3 linked regions of the Homo sapiens genome follow. The protein of the gene in region 1 interacts with the protein of each later gene in a biochemical or structural test. Each region holds a gene or a part of one and is shown on either strand. Other genes may lie near its edges.

Region 1 (3,745 bases):
CGCAGTTTCCCCTAGAGCCCGCCAGGGGGCGCTCCCAACTCTACAACTTGCCCAGACCCGCCCTGATGTCCGTTAGCGTTATAACGGCAAGAGAGAAGCAGCCACCATCACCATGGCAACCAGTGACCTCTGCCCCTTGTTCCCCACCAGCACGCCCTGCGGGCAGTCCCCCAGCAGTGTTTGGAGGAAGGATGGTAAAGGTTTGTTGGAGGGGAGAATCCAGGGCTCTAGGGGAATTGGGGTGAATCAGAACTGTATGTCACCCCAAGGGAGTATAAATGGGCTGGCAGTATTCTCACTGTTACAGGGCCCAGGGAGTCATACATCCCCTGGAAAAGCAAGGAGGTGAATACATCAGTGATGGAGTAGGTAGGTTAGGAAGGGCTCCGAAGGTACTCACCAAGGGGGACCAGCCCAGCACACGATTCCGGGGAATCACTTTGATGGCCACCTGGAGAAGAAGGCCGTGATAAGGAGGCCAGCAGGTGATCCCCAGACCCCTCCCAGTCTAGACCTTCTGCCTACCTCCAGTATTCCTCCATCTACCAGCACTCTAGTCTTTCTGGTCCCCAACCACAGCACCCCACAGAACGCGTACCAGGGCGTCTCCCCTGCCCTCCAGGTCCTCGGAACCAAGTTTATCTCTCCCACCTTCCTTAGCCCTGGGCTCTCCGTTCTCAGGCATCAGGACTCATCACTCCAAGTCCTGAGTTCTAGATTTCCTGATACCCCAGGCCCACAATCTTCCTATTTAGCTCTACGACACCCCAACTCTGTACCAGGGTCCTGGTCCGCATGACTCCACACTGGACACCTACCTCCAAAAGTCCCACAAATCTCACATCTAGGTCCCTGCTTTCCCACACATACACAGCCTGGACCCCGGGGTCAAGGAACTCCGGAATCTGAAGCCCCCTGCCCCCCCCCCCCGCCCATAACCTCCTAGACCGACACACACACGCGCACGCACACACACCTGGCCCTCTACACACACTGCAGGCTCACTCCTCGGACACGGACACGGACACACACACACACACACCTGGTCCTCTACACACTCTGCAGGCTCACTCCTCGGTCAACCAGCATTCCAGGGCCAGGACCCCCGCCCCCGCCACACGCACCTGACCCTCCCAAGACCCTCATGACGGATACCTGGAGTCGATCTGTGAGGCGGTGTCCTGCGAAGACGGTGCCAAAGCCCCCCTTACCCAGGAGGGGGCCGAGTCGATACTCGGCCTCGAACGCTTCCCGATCCTTGCCTCCTACGCAGGCGGAGGCGAGGAAGTCAGGGTGGCGGCGTGCTGAGCCCAGCCACGACTCCCTCCCCCCGCGCTGCAACCCATCATTCCAGCCCACCCCGTCTGGTTGCAGTAGGGGAGGATGTACTCACCTGGCGGCGGCGTGGGGGTCCCGGGGGGCGCGGGAGGCCCCTGTAGAGGCTTGGTCAACATGGAGGTGGCGCTGCGCAGATTGAGCCCACTGAACCCGCTAAGCCCGCAGGGCGTGGACGCCCGGGGCAGCGCAGCTGGGGAGCCAGGGCTGGGGGGCGCCAGGGTGGAAAGCAGAGAAACTGGTGGCCCGGAAGCGCCCGCAGACGGCGCAGCGTTGAGATTCGCCGCGCGCGCCAGCCCCAATGCTACTGAGCCTGGGCACGCGCCTCCCGGGAGAGTCACCCTGGGCGACAGCCCCGCCCACCTGGCTTTGATCAATCCGGACGCGGCACCTGCTGTACCACAGCCAATCGGAGCCAGTTCTTATTTGCATACCACCCTCATCGTTTCAAGGGCCCCCTTATGCAAATACACGCTCGGTTCTTCCGAGGAGGCGGGGCCTGCATGTAAATGAGGGGGCTTGAGGTGGGGCTCACACCAAGAGGAAACCGGTTCTGGGAATCCCTTTGCAGCACCGCGCTTGTTTTGGTTGTTGCGCGGGGTTGTTGTTGGTAGTGGTGGCGGTGTGTGTGTGTATTTACACTTAAAAAATAACTGCGCAGTATCCTTTCCTGGGAAGTTGGTTTGCCGCCGCTGCCTGGATATTAGCACAGAGATAGCGCCAGGCCGGGCTTCTAAGAATTCGCGCTTGTGGCTATCCAAGACTCCGTCTCGAAAGGTGCTTGTCGGACTCCTTCACCGGAGTCCTCCAGGCGACTGGCGGCCTTCACTGGAAAGCTGAGGCCAGGGCCCTGGAAATATCTGGTAGCCAGGGAGGGGGAACCCCTACCATCAACGCCACGGGTGTGCATTGGTCAAAGGCAGCATTGCCTGGTGAGTGTTTATTGGAGCTTTTAACCCTGAGCCCTGGGCCCAGTCAGCAAGTCTAGAATCTAGAACAGCAGGGGGTGGTTCTTGGGGGATGGGGGTGAGCCCAGAGTGGTGGTGGCATGGGGCTGCTCTTGGAGTTGAGAGAGGCAAGGACTGAGAGACATGATAGAGGCTGCTAGAGAAGTGGCAACTCTCAGACACAAATTTGTGAAAAACAGCCAGAAAAGGCGCCACACCCCAGGAAGAAAAATGCACTCCAAAGACACATGAATGCCAAGATATACACAAACACATACTGTCAGACACATTCACAGAAACGACCTAGATACACATGCAGCCAGAGACTGACATACACTTTCAGGCAAGCACACTGTCAGAAAAATAGTTATGTCCTAGAATGACACCCAGAGATACACTGTTACAGAAAGGCACTCACGCAGACCTACATTTGCCATGTGATGACACAGAAATGTCCCGTCACACTGGCAGAACTTGTCACAAACACACTGTCACCATCAGATATGCACTGTCACAGCAAGACTTGTACTGTCCCAGAAATGAGAGACGCAGAGTCTGTCACAGGAAGATGCACAGATGCTCCAGGGACACACATGCACTGCTCTGAAGGCAGACATGTACTGATGTGATAGAATCACATTTTGTGGCAGTGTCACAAAAACAGACATGGATAGACCTGTTCAGACACAGACATACATACACCATGACACATGCAGTTTATCAATGGAACAAACTGTCCAGAAATAGCTACCCAGAATCTGTTGCAGGAACACAAACGGACATCCACCCCATCAGACAGAAACCACAGATGCACTGTCACAGACAGACCCACGCAGGCATGCACGCATCTTGGATTTAGACACAAACTGTCAGAGATAAGAGTCCCACACTCAGTCACCATCTGACACACCTGGAAACAAGCCCTTCATCACACACACAACTGGGGACACTCTGTGAGCTGCACATGAAGACTTGGACTCACCACAGTCACACACACACAGACAACACCAAAAAAGCACACATGTACTCTCCTTTGTTCACCCAACGTTATTGGGGGTGGTTTGCTATAAGCCTGCCAGGCCTTGATGGGGATGTTGGTATCAGAGATGTACAGATAAGTCAGGCATCAAACCCGTGCCATGAAGTTTATCTGTAGTACAGCTACTGGGGAGATTTTTAGATAGAAGTGAGAATGTGAATGGGCTTCTCAGCAGGTGACCCTCTGTCTTGAAAGACAAAGAAGGTTGGTGGCTCAGGACAGGGGAGGGCAAATTGCAGGCAAAGGCCAAGAACACTGGACAGAGCGGCGAGAGATTGGCAGGGGCCAAATGGTGCAGAAACTTCTACAAAAAGAATACTACTAACATTTGTGCTCTCTCAATGTGCCAAGCACTGTGCCCAGGTAGTACGTTACTTTGATCATACATATTCCCTCTAGATGATCACAGCAGAAGCATGAGGGA
Region 2 (3,745 bases), on another chromosome or scaffold:
CTGAGGCACTTTTCAGGGGTGGAGGTGGGCGGGGGGGAGGGAGGCCGGCCCTCGGTGTCCGTGTGGCCCCTGGCGTCCGTGAGGGCTGTGACGGAGGCGGGGGCAGGTTCACTCTCCCGCAGGATGGAGTCAATGAGGGCGGTCGGGGACAAGAGGGTGTCCACGGAAGATGGGCGCCCGGGACTCGCCTCCTCTACCCGGGGGCTCTGAGGCGGGCTGGGGGGCTCCTCCTTGACACGCACCAGGGGGCTGCTGGATAGGGGCCTGCACACGAGGGGGGCCAGGTGAGCTGGCGTCTCGGCCAGCCCCACCTCATCCCCAACTCTGCCCTGGGCCCACAGGGGCTCGCCTCATTGGGGGACAGGATGGCTGGGGTGATGCGGCCCCCACCTCTCGTCTATGCTCCCGCCGGGGGAGGCCATGGGGCTGGCAGGAGCCAGCTCGGTGATGTCGGAGATGATGGGTCCAGAGCTGGCCACAGCATCAGGGGCGTAGAGGCTGGAGCTGCTGTAGGCTGGGGAGGGGGCCTGCAATCAAAGGCAGGAGGTCCATGCAGTGCCGGCAGGGGCAACCCACCCCACTGCCGCCTGCATGCCTGGGCGGGTGCCCTGTCTCCGGCACTCACCGAGTAGGGGCCCGAGCCGTGGACGTGCTCCAGGGAGAACTGCCGGCTATACTTGGGCATGGAATGTGCTGAGCCACTGTCGTTCAGCATCAGGGGGCTGTGGGGAAGGGTGCAGGTCAGCCACCACCCCCCACCTCGGGGTACCCGGGGCACAGCTGACAGAGAAGGGGGACAGCCCTGGGCCCCGGGTGGTGGATGCAGGCATCCCCAAAACCTCACATCTTTCTCTTCACCCCCAGGATCCGGTTTGACTGCACCAGTGAGATCAGGAACTGAATGAGCTGTGGAGAGAGAGGACACAGTTACCCCGGCCCTTGTGGGGCCCCCGCCGGCCCTCTGGCCCTGCCCCCACCTTGTTGACGACTTTCTGTTGCTGGGCATGCTTCTGCCGAAGGCTGGCCACCTCCCGCCACAGAGCCTCATTCTCACTGCAACAGACCAGGCTGGGTCAGTGGGGCCCAATCCCATGAGCCCCAGGGCTGAGGGAGCCCCACAGACCCTCCCTGTCCCCCATGCAGGAGCAGGGGTAAGTGTGACCATGTCTGGCCTGGCCCACCCCAGGATGAGAACTTGTGTGTGGAGGGACTGGGGGCCAGGGCCAGGGCTTGCTGGTCCCACTGCCCCTCCCTGCCGGGGACACCTGGTGTCACGTAGGGTGTTGGGGATGGATCCATGCGAGCCAGGTGCACCCGGATCCTGGCATCCATCCTGGCAAACACCTGGAGGGCTGCCTTGGACACAGGCCAGGAGCAGACCCTTGGGCCGCCCTTCCAAGGCCTGAGCAGCCAGGTTAAGGGAGGACGGTTCTTCAGGCTGCGACACTGGCTGTCCCATGTCCTGTAGGTGCTCAGGGCCCTCGCCAGGCCTGGAGGTGGCTCAGGGGTGGGGAAGAGCTGTCCCCAGCCAGGTGAGCAGGGCCATGACCGCGCTCCTGCTGCTCTGGGAGGCTGGGCCCTGTCAAGCCTGTGAGTCTTCTTGGTAGGCCAGGTCCACGTGGCCGGACTCCAGGAATCACAAAGCCGGTGGCTCCTGCTAGACCCCATGCAGGAGAGTCTGAGGCCAAGGCCTCCTCCATGACGTGGGGGTCAAGAGCGCCTGCTGCACGGAGCCGAGGAAGCCGTACTGGCATTGGGGTTCCCGCATGCCTGGAGCCCCAAAGTGGACGTGAGACCTGAGCTGGCCTTCCGAGGTGGGCTTGCCTCAGTTTCTCAGGTGCCACCGTGTGTTAGGCTCCTGCTAAGGTTTCCCCAGAGCCGCAGGGTCCCGGTGAGGAGGGGCTGGGGGCTAGCTCCATGGGCCCAGGCGAGTGTGGGACAGCGGTTCCAGGAAGGGCCTGAGGTGGGTCTGACCCCAGGCCCGAGGCGGGTGGGACGGGTCTGCTGTGCAAGGCTTGTCCTCAAAAGTAGGCTGGTGGGTCCCGCCAAGCTCGGAGCCAGGCAGAAGCCAATGGCCCAGAGGGCGCTGGGGATGTGCAGAGCAGGGGACCCTCCCAACCCCCTTCTGCACATGGAAAACGGCTGGCCCCAGAGCTGTTGCAGCAGCCACGGGCGGCGGGGCTGGGGCAGAGGCCCAGGGTAGATGTGCGTGGAGCGGGAGGGTGGAGCTGAGCACCTGGCCCCGGTCAGGGCCCTGCCCCCACAGCACCCGGGGCCTCTTGGTGGGCGCCAGGACCCGCTGTGGCCCATAATGCTGGTGTGGGACCTACTGCTTCATGGCCAGGAGCTTGGAGTCCATGCACTCCTGCTTCCCCTTCATCAGCTGCACGTCCGTCAGCAGCTTGGTGACGCTGTCCTGGCGGATCTTTATGTCTTCACTCTTCAGGGTGGACACCTGGATTCCCGAGAGGGACAGGAGTCACTGGAGCAGCCTAGGAGCTTGGCAGGCTCAGGCTCGTCCACTGCAGCCAGGTCCCTCAGGAAGGGGCAGGCTGGGGTGGGAGCCCTCAGGGAGGGGCGGGCGGGGAGAGCTGTGGCAGGTGAGACCGGGCAAGGGTGCAGGGCCGGCACTCACACTGGTCACTTTCCTCTTGATGTTCTCAAGGAGCTGCTCCTGGCCACGCAGGAAGCATGGGTGCTGGAACTCCGTGTCGTCTCTCTCTGGCTTGACCAGGCCGCCCTGCTCGATGTGGACCACTTTCCGGAAGCCATCTGCACATAACAGGGAAGGGGGCAGCTCTGCCTCAGGGCGGGACCAGAACCCCTGAAGAGCGGCCACTGCTCCAGGAGGCTGCTGCGGGGCTTGGCCATGGTCAGACCCTGCCCTGCCCCCTCAGAGCCCATGCCTGGGTGGCCGAGTGGCCTTGGTCTAAGGGAGACCCTGTGTCCCCACAGGGCTCCCTGCGCCCGACACACGTGGAGTACAGCTCCGGCTTCACGGTTCTTCCATGGGGACCCCAGGTTCATACCCACAAGGACCCTCCCCCATGGAAGAGGCGGCTGCTCCCCGGCCCCCAGGCTTGCAGGGTCCCACGCCATGCCCTTGGCCAGCACAGGACGCCCCGTCCTTCATCACAGGGTCCTCCTGCTGGGGTCCCGCCATCTGCAGGTCTGCCTCCCGCACCCCTGCGCTGCCTGGAGGCAGCACTCACACATGTTGAGCTGCCGCACGAAGCTGGCCATGTTGTTGTGCTTGAAGTACTTGGGCAGCACCTCCTTGGCAAACTGGCCCTGGTCGAACACGTGGAAGCTGTTCCCGCTCTGAAAGGGAGACACATGGGTGGGTCACGCGTGGTGGTGAGGGGCAGCGTGCCCAAGCCGCCCCTTCCCCAGGCCGCCCCTTCTGAAACGCAGGCAGTGCACGTTCCACCTGATGGGGCTGGGGCCATGGGAGGCCCAGGGGGCTGGCGGGAGGCGAGTTCGTTCCTGGGACCACCTGCCACACGGGCCTCATCTGTGCAGCGTGACCTGCATCCTCACTGTGAGGCCCAGGACTGGGCGGTGGGCAGATGCGAGGCCTTCCTCTCAGTCGGAAAGCCCCTCCCCAGGGCTTCCAGAGAAGGCCACGTTTCCACTCACAAAGCATCCGCCGCACTCTGGCCACATTTCCACTCACAAAGCACCCGCCGCACTCTGGCCACGTTTCCACTCACAAAGCACCTGTTTAAGCAGGACCTTTCCCTTG
Region 3 (3,745 bases), on another chromosome or scaffold:
AGAGTATTCACACCATTGACAGAGGCAAGTGGACATATCAGAGACTTGTTTGTTTGCTTTGAGACCCAGTTTACCAGCACATCACTGGGAGTTTTCCATCTCCAAATTAGCCACTTTACAATGTCGTTTTTAAATGTCTGTAGCAGATTAACATGATTCCCTGCCCTCTTGCTCTTCACAGACCACCCTCACTAATGCAGGAGGAACTGGAAACTGGAACACAGGAAGCTGCCTATCATGAAGGCCCATGATAGACAAGAGAAGTCCGGCGTGAGTGATGGAGAATATTAAACAACAAATCTAAGCCATACGCCTAAAGCTGCCAAAGACCTTGAAAGGCCCAGCTGAGAAAAACATGAACTTCAAGTCTGGCATGTACGGCTATTTTAGGAATGATGAAAAACAACTTCATCAGATGTGGCTCCTGCCCTCTTAATAGGGTGAGGACAGGCAGCCTCTTCATCTTCTCATTGTTTTTTCCTAATTCTACTCCTTCATGTTCCCAGTTCCTCTCAAACTGGGAAAGATAGTAAGCCCATATAACTGCACTTCTAATCTCAGAAGTTTTTTTTTCTAATTACAATTGTTGTTTTATAAAAGCTGGGAATACTCTTTCATTTAACAATCTTTTTCAACAGTCATTTGTTGTTGAGGCCCTCCAATGTGCCAGGCATTGCACTAGACACTGGGACACAGAGACAAATAAGATTCATTTTCTGCTCTCAAAAAGCAGAGATAACGCCAGGTGTGGTGGCTCACACCTGTAATCCCAGCACTTTGGGAGGCCAAGGTGGGCGGGTCACTTGAGGTCAGGAGTTCAAGGCCAGCCTGGCCAACATGGTGAAACCTCATCTCCACTAAAAATACAAAAATTAGCCAGGTGTGGTGGCGGGAACCTGTAATCCCAGCTACTCAGGAGGCTGAGGCAGGAGAATCGCTTGAACCCAGGAGGCGGAGGTTGCAGTGAGCCAAGATCACACCACTGTACACCAGACTGGGCAACAAGAGCAAAACACTGTCTCAAAAAAAAAAAAAAAAAAAAAAAAAAAAGAAGCAGAGACAGACCAATAGGGACTCCAATGCGTGCATCAGGGATGGAAGTTTCAAGCAGTCTAGGTCAACAGGAGGGTCAGTGTGAAGGTCAGGAATTTGGTGGATAGGGATGTAGTACAAGAGGTGACCAACAGAAGCCAGGGTTTGAAGAGCCTTAAACATGGCAATAAAAAGTTAGAAATGGAGATGAGTTTGTGGGAGTCCACTGGGGAGAAGGCGGCGTGAGCCACAACACTCATCTGCACAGTGGCTCAGGGAGGATTCGAGAGATGGCAGCAGTGAGGTGGAAGCTATGAAAAGACCACAGCAGGGATCTAGAGGGACTCCCAGAAACCCAGCTCAGCTGAACAAGTGGAGTCAATTATGAAGCTGGGAAGAAGACCGGCTACATTAAAACCCTCAATGGTGGAAGTACAGACCCACCCTTTTCTCCGGTTCCACTATGATGGCGTGTTTATCTTCTTCTGACACGAGAACACACGTGGCAAAGGATGACTTTAACATGTTCATAACCAGGTCGTTGGAGAGGACGTCCAGCTTCTTAACTTGATCACCTGTCACGTTGGTAGAACCAGCAATGCCATAGCTACAGGGAACAAAAGCCACAAAAAATAAGCCATGACCACCAGAACATGTAGATGAGTCCATAAACCCACCAAAAGTGAGTGTTCGGTAAGATTTAGAAGAAAGAGTTCATGTCCTTTGCAGGGACATGGATGAAGCTGGAATCCATCATTCTCAGCAAACTAATACAGGAACAGAAAACCAAACACCACATGTTCTCACTCATAAATGGGAGTTGAACAATGAGAACACATAGACACAGGGAGGGGAACATCACACACTGGGGCCTCTCAGGGAGCTGGGGACTAGGGGAGGGAGAGCATTAGGAGAAATACCTAATGTAGATGACAGATTGATGGGTGCAGCAAACCACCATGGCATGTTTATACCTATGTAACAAACCTACGCATTCTGCATGTGTATCCCAGAACTTAAAGTATAATAATAATTTTTTTAAAAAAGGGCCGGGCGTGGTGGCTCACGCCTGTAATCCCAGCACTTTGGGAGGCTGAGGCGGGTGGATCATGAGGTCAGGGGATCGAGACCATCCTGGCTAACATGGTGAAACCCCGTCTCTATTAAAAAATACAAAAAAGTAGCCGGGTGTGGTGGTGGGTGCCTGTAGTCCCAGCTACTTGGGAGGCTGAGGCAGGAGAATGGCGTGAACCCAGGAGGCGGAGCTTGCAGTGAGCCGAGATCGTGCCACTGCATGCCAGCCTGGGCGACAGAGCGAGACTCCGTCTCAAAAAAAAAAAAAAAAAAAAAAAATACAAAAAATTAGCCGGGTGTGGTGGCGGGCGCCTGTAGTCCCAGCTATTCAGGATGCTGAGGCAGGAGAATGGCGTGAACCCGGGAGGTGGAGCTTGCAGTGAGCCGAGATCGCACCACTGCACTCCAGCCTGGGCGACAGAGCAAGATTCCGTCTAAAAATATATATATTTTTAGAAGAAAGGAAGGAGGACATCAGCTTGGGAGAACAAGGCAGGAAGGTCTGGACAGACCCTAGAGAGGAGGAGATACTATCATCTGCCTCTTCACCTCGAACCTGTCATGGTGCCCTGCACACTTTTGTGGTTAAATCAGTGTTTCTTAACTTTGTTTTCATTATGATTCCCCTAGGGAGCTTTTTAGAACATTTTTTCCTCAACCATACTCCCCCATGAAATATTTTTAATACTACAGATATAGTAGATATCTGTTTATTGCAGTATGTGTCTCAGTGCTTTTTACATAAAAAGTTTGCGGGTGTTTTTGGTTTTGCCCAGAAAGAACCAGTGTTGGCCCCCAAACACACGGGTTAAACGAATCAATAGAGAGACCCAGCAAGCAAGGAAGCCTGGGTCGGGGGTAGCCTGAGTTGCGAGCCAAGCCAAGGGGTTTATGGCTTTATAACTAAAAAGACCCTAAAAGAAACAAAGCATCAACCGGCCCCTCTGCCTCATTTCATAGAGGAGAAAACTCAGACCCAAGACTCCTGTGGACTTCTCCACACAGGCAGAGGGTAGAAGTGAGACGCTGCCTATGACTCCCAGGCAGAGGGTGGAGGCGAGACCCTGCCTATGACTCCCAGGCCAGGGCTCTCTTGGTGACACCCTGGGCCCCTGGCAGGAGTCCTAGGGCATGGAAGTTGCAGGGATCCTGGAGTTTTCACTATTTTTAAGCAACCTGCAAGTCAGTAATTATAGAATTCCCAGAATCCAGTGGCTTGTCTAAACGCAGCCTAGCTTCTTAGACTTACAGAAGCGGCAGGTTGTCATAGCCTGGGGTTGCCCTGAACACAGAAAGGAGGGAGACGTCTCACAGGAAGGATGCACAGAGCAAGGCGAGAGCCTTGATGTGGGAAGGGGAAAAGATGGGTCTTTGAAGACACCAGCAAGCCTCTGAAAGTGGGTGGTAAGGGCACACCCGCGCCCTTGGCCATGATGGCGATGTGCGCTCGCCTGGGAACTGACGGTCCCTGATCCAGTGGCCGTGACTGCTTCAGCTCCTGCAAGTGCATTTGCCCAAAACATAACTCGCTGTGACTGGCTGGGCAAAACTGAGCCCCTCCTAGAAACCATCCAAACCCACATGCCTGGTCCGGCCTGACTATCTCAGGAGCTAGCTCCGGCTGTCTTCTCGGGCCCGC

The links.
Region 2: the proteins of PIM2 (region 1) and HSF1 form a complex in vitro, tested with the Homo sapiens proteins (one study listed by BioGRID).
Region 3: the proteins of PIM2 (region 1) and FBP1 form a complex in vitro, tested with the Homo sapiens proteins (one study listed by BioGRID).

What each region holds. Positions count from the first base shown.
Region 1 is NC_000023.11:48,917,381-48,921,125, forward strand, and holds the start of PIM2 (serine/threonine-protein kinase pim-2), read right to left. Parts: upstream 1,645-3,745; 5' UTR 1,455-1,644; coding exon 1,394-1,454; intron 1,266-1,393; coding exon 1,156-1,265; intron 452-1,155; coding exon 401-451; intron 1-400. UniProt on the Homo sapiens protein: Proto-oncogene with serine/threonine kinase activity involved in cell survival and cell proliferation.
Region 2 is NC_000008.11:144,308,482-144,312,226, reverse strand, and holds part of HSF1 (heat shock factor protein 1), read right to left. Parts: exon of another isoform or gene 3,322-3,745; coding exon 3,213-3,321; intron 2,773-3,212; coding exon 2,636-2,772; intron 2,456-2,635; coding exon 2,331-2,455; intron 1,054-2,330; coding exon 978-1,053; intron 907-977; coding exon 845-906; intron 723-844; coding exon 626-722; intron 528-625; coding exon 391-527; coding exon of another isoform or gene 350-390; intron 265-349; coding exon 1-264. UniProt on the Homo sapiens protein: Functions as a stress-inducible and DNA-binding transcription factor that plays a central role in the transcriptional activation of the heat shock response (HSR), leading to the expression of a large class of molecular chaperones, heat shock proteins (HSPs), that protect cells from cellular insult damage.
Region 3 is NC_000009.12:94,618,853-94,622,597, forward strand, and holds part of FBP1 (fructose-1,6-bisphosphatase 1), read right to left. Parts: intron 1,640-3,745; coding exon 1,477-1,639; intron 1-1,476. UniProt on the Homo sapiens protein: Catalyzes the hydrolysis of fructose 1,6-bisphosphate to fructose 6-phosphate in the presence of divalent cations, acting as a rate-limiting enzyme in gluconeogenesis. Plays a role in regulating glucose sensing and insulin secretion of pancreatic beta-cells.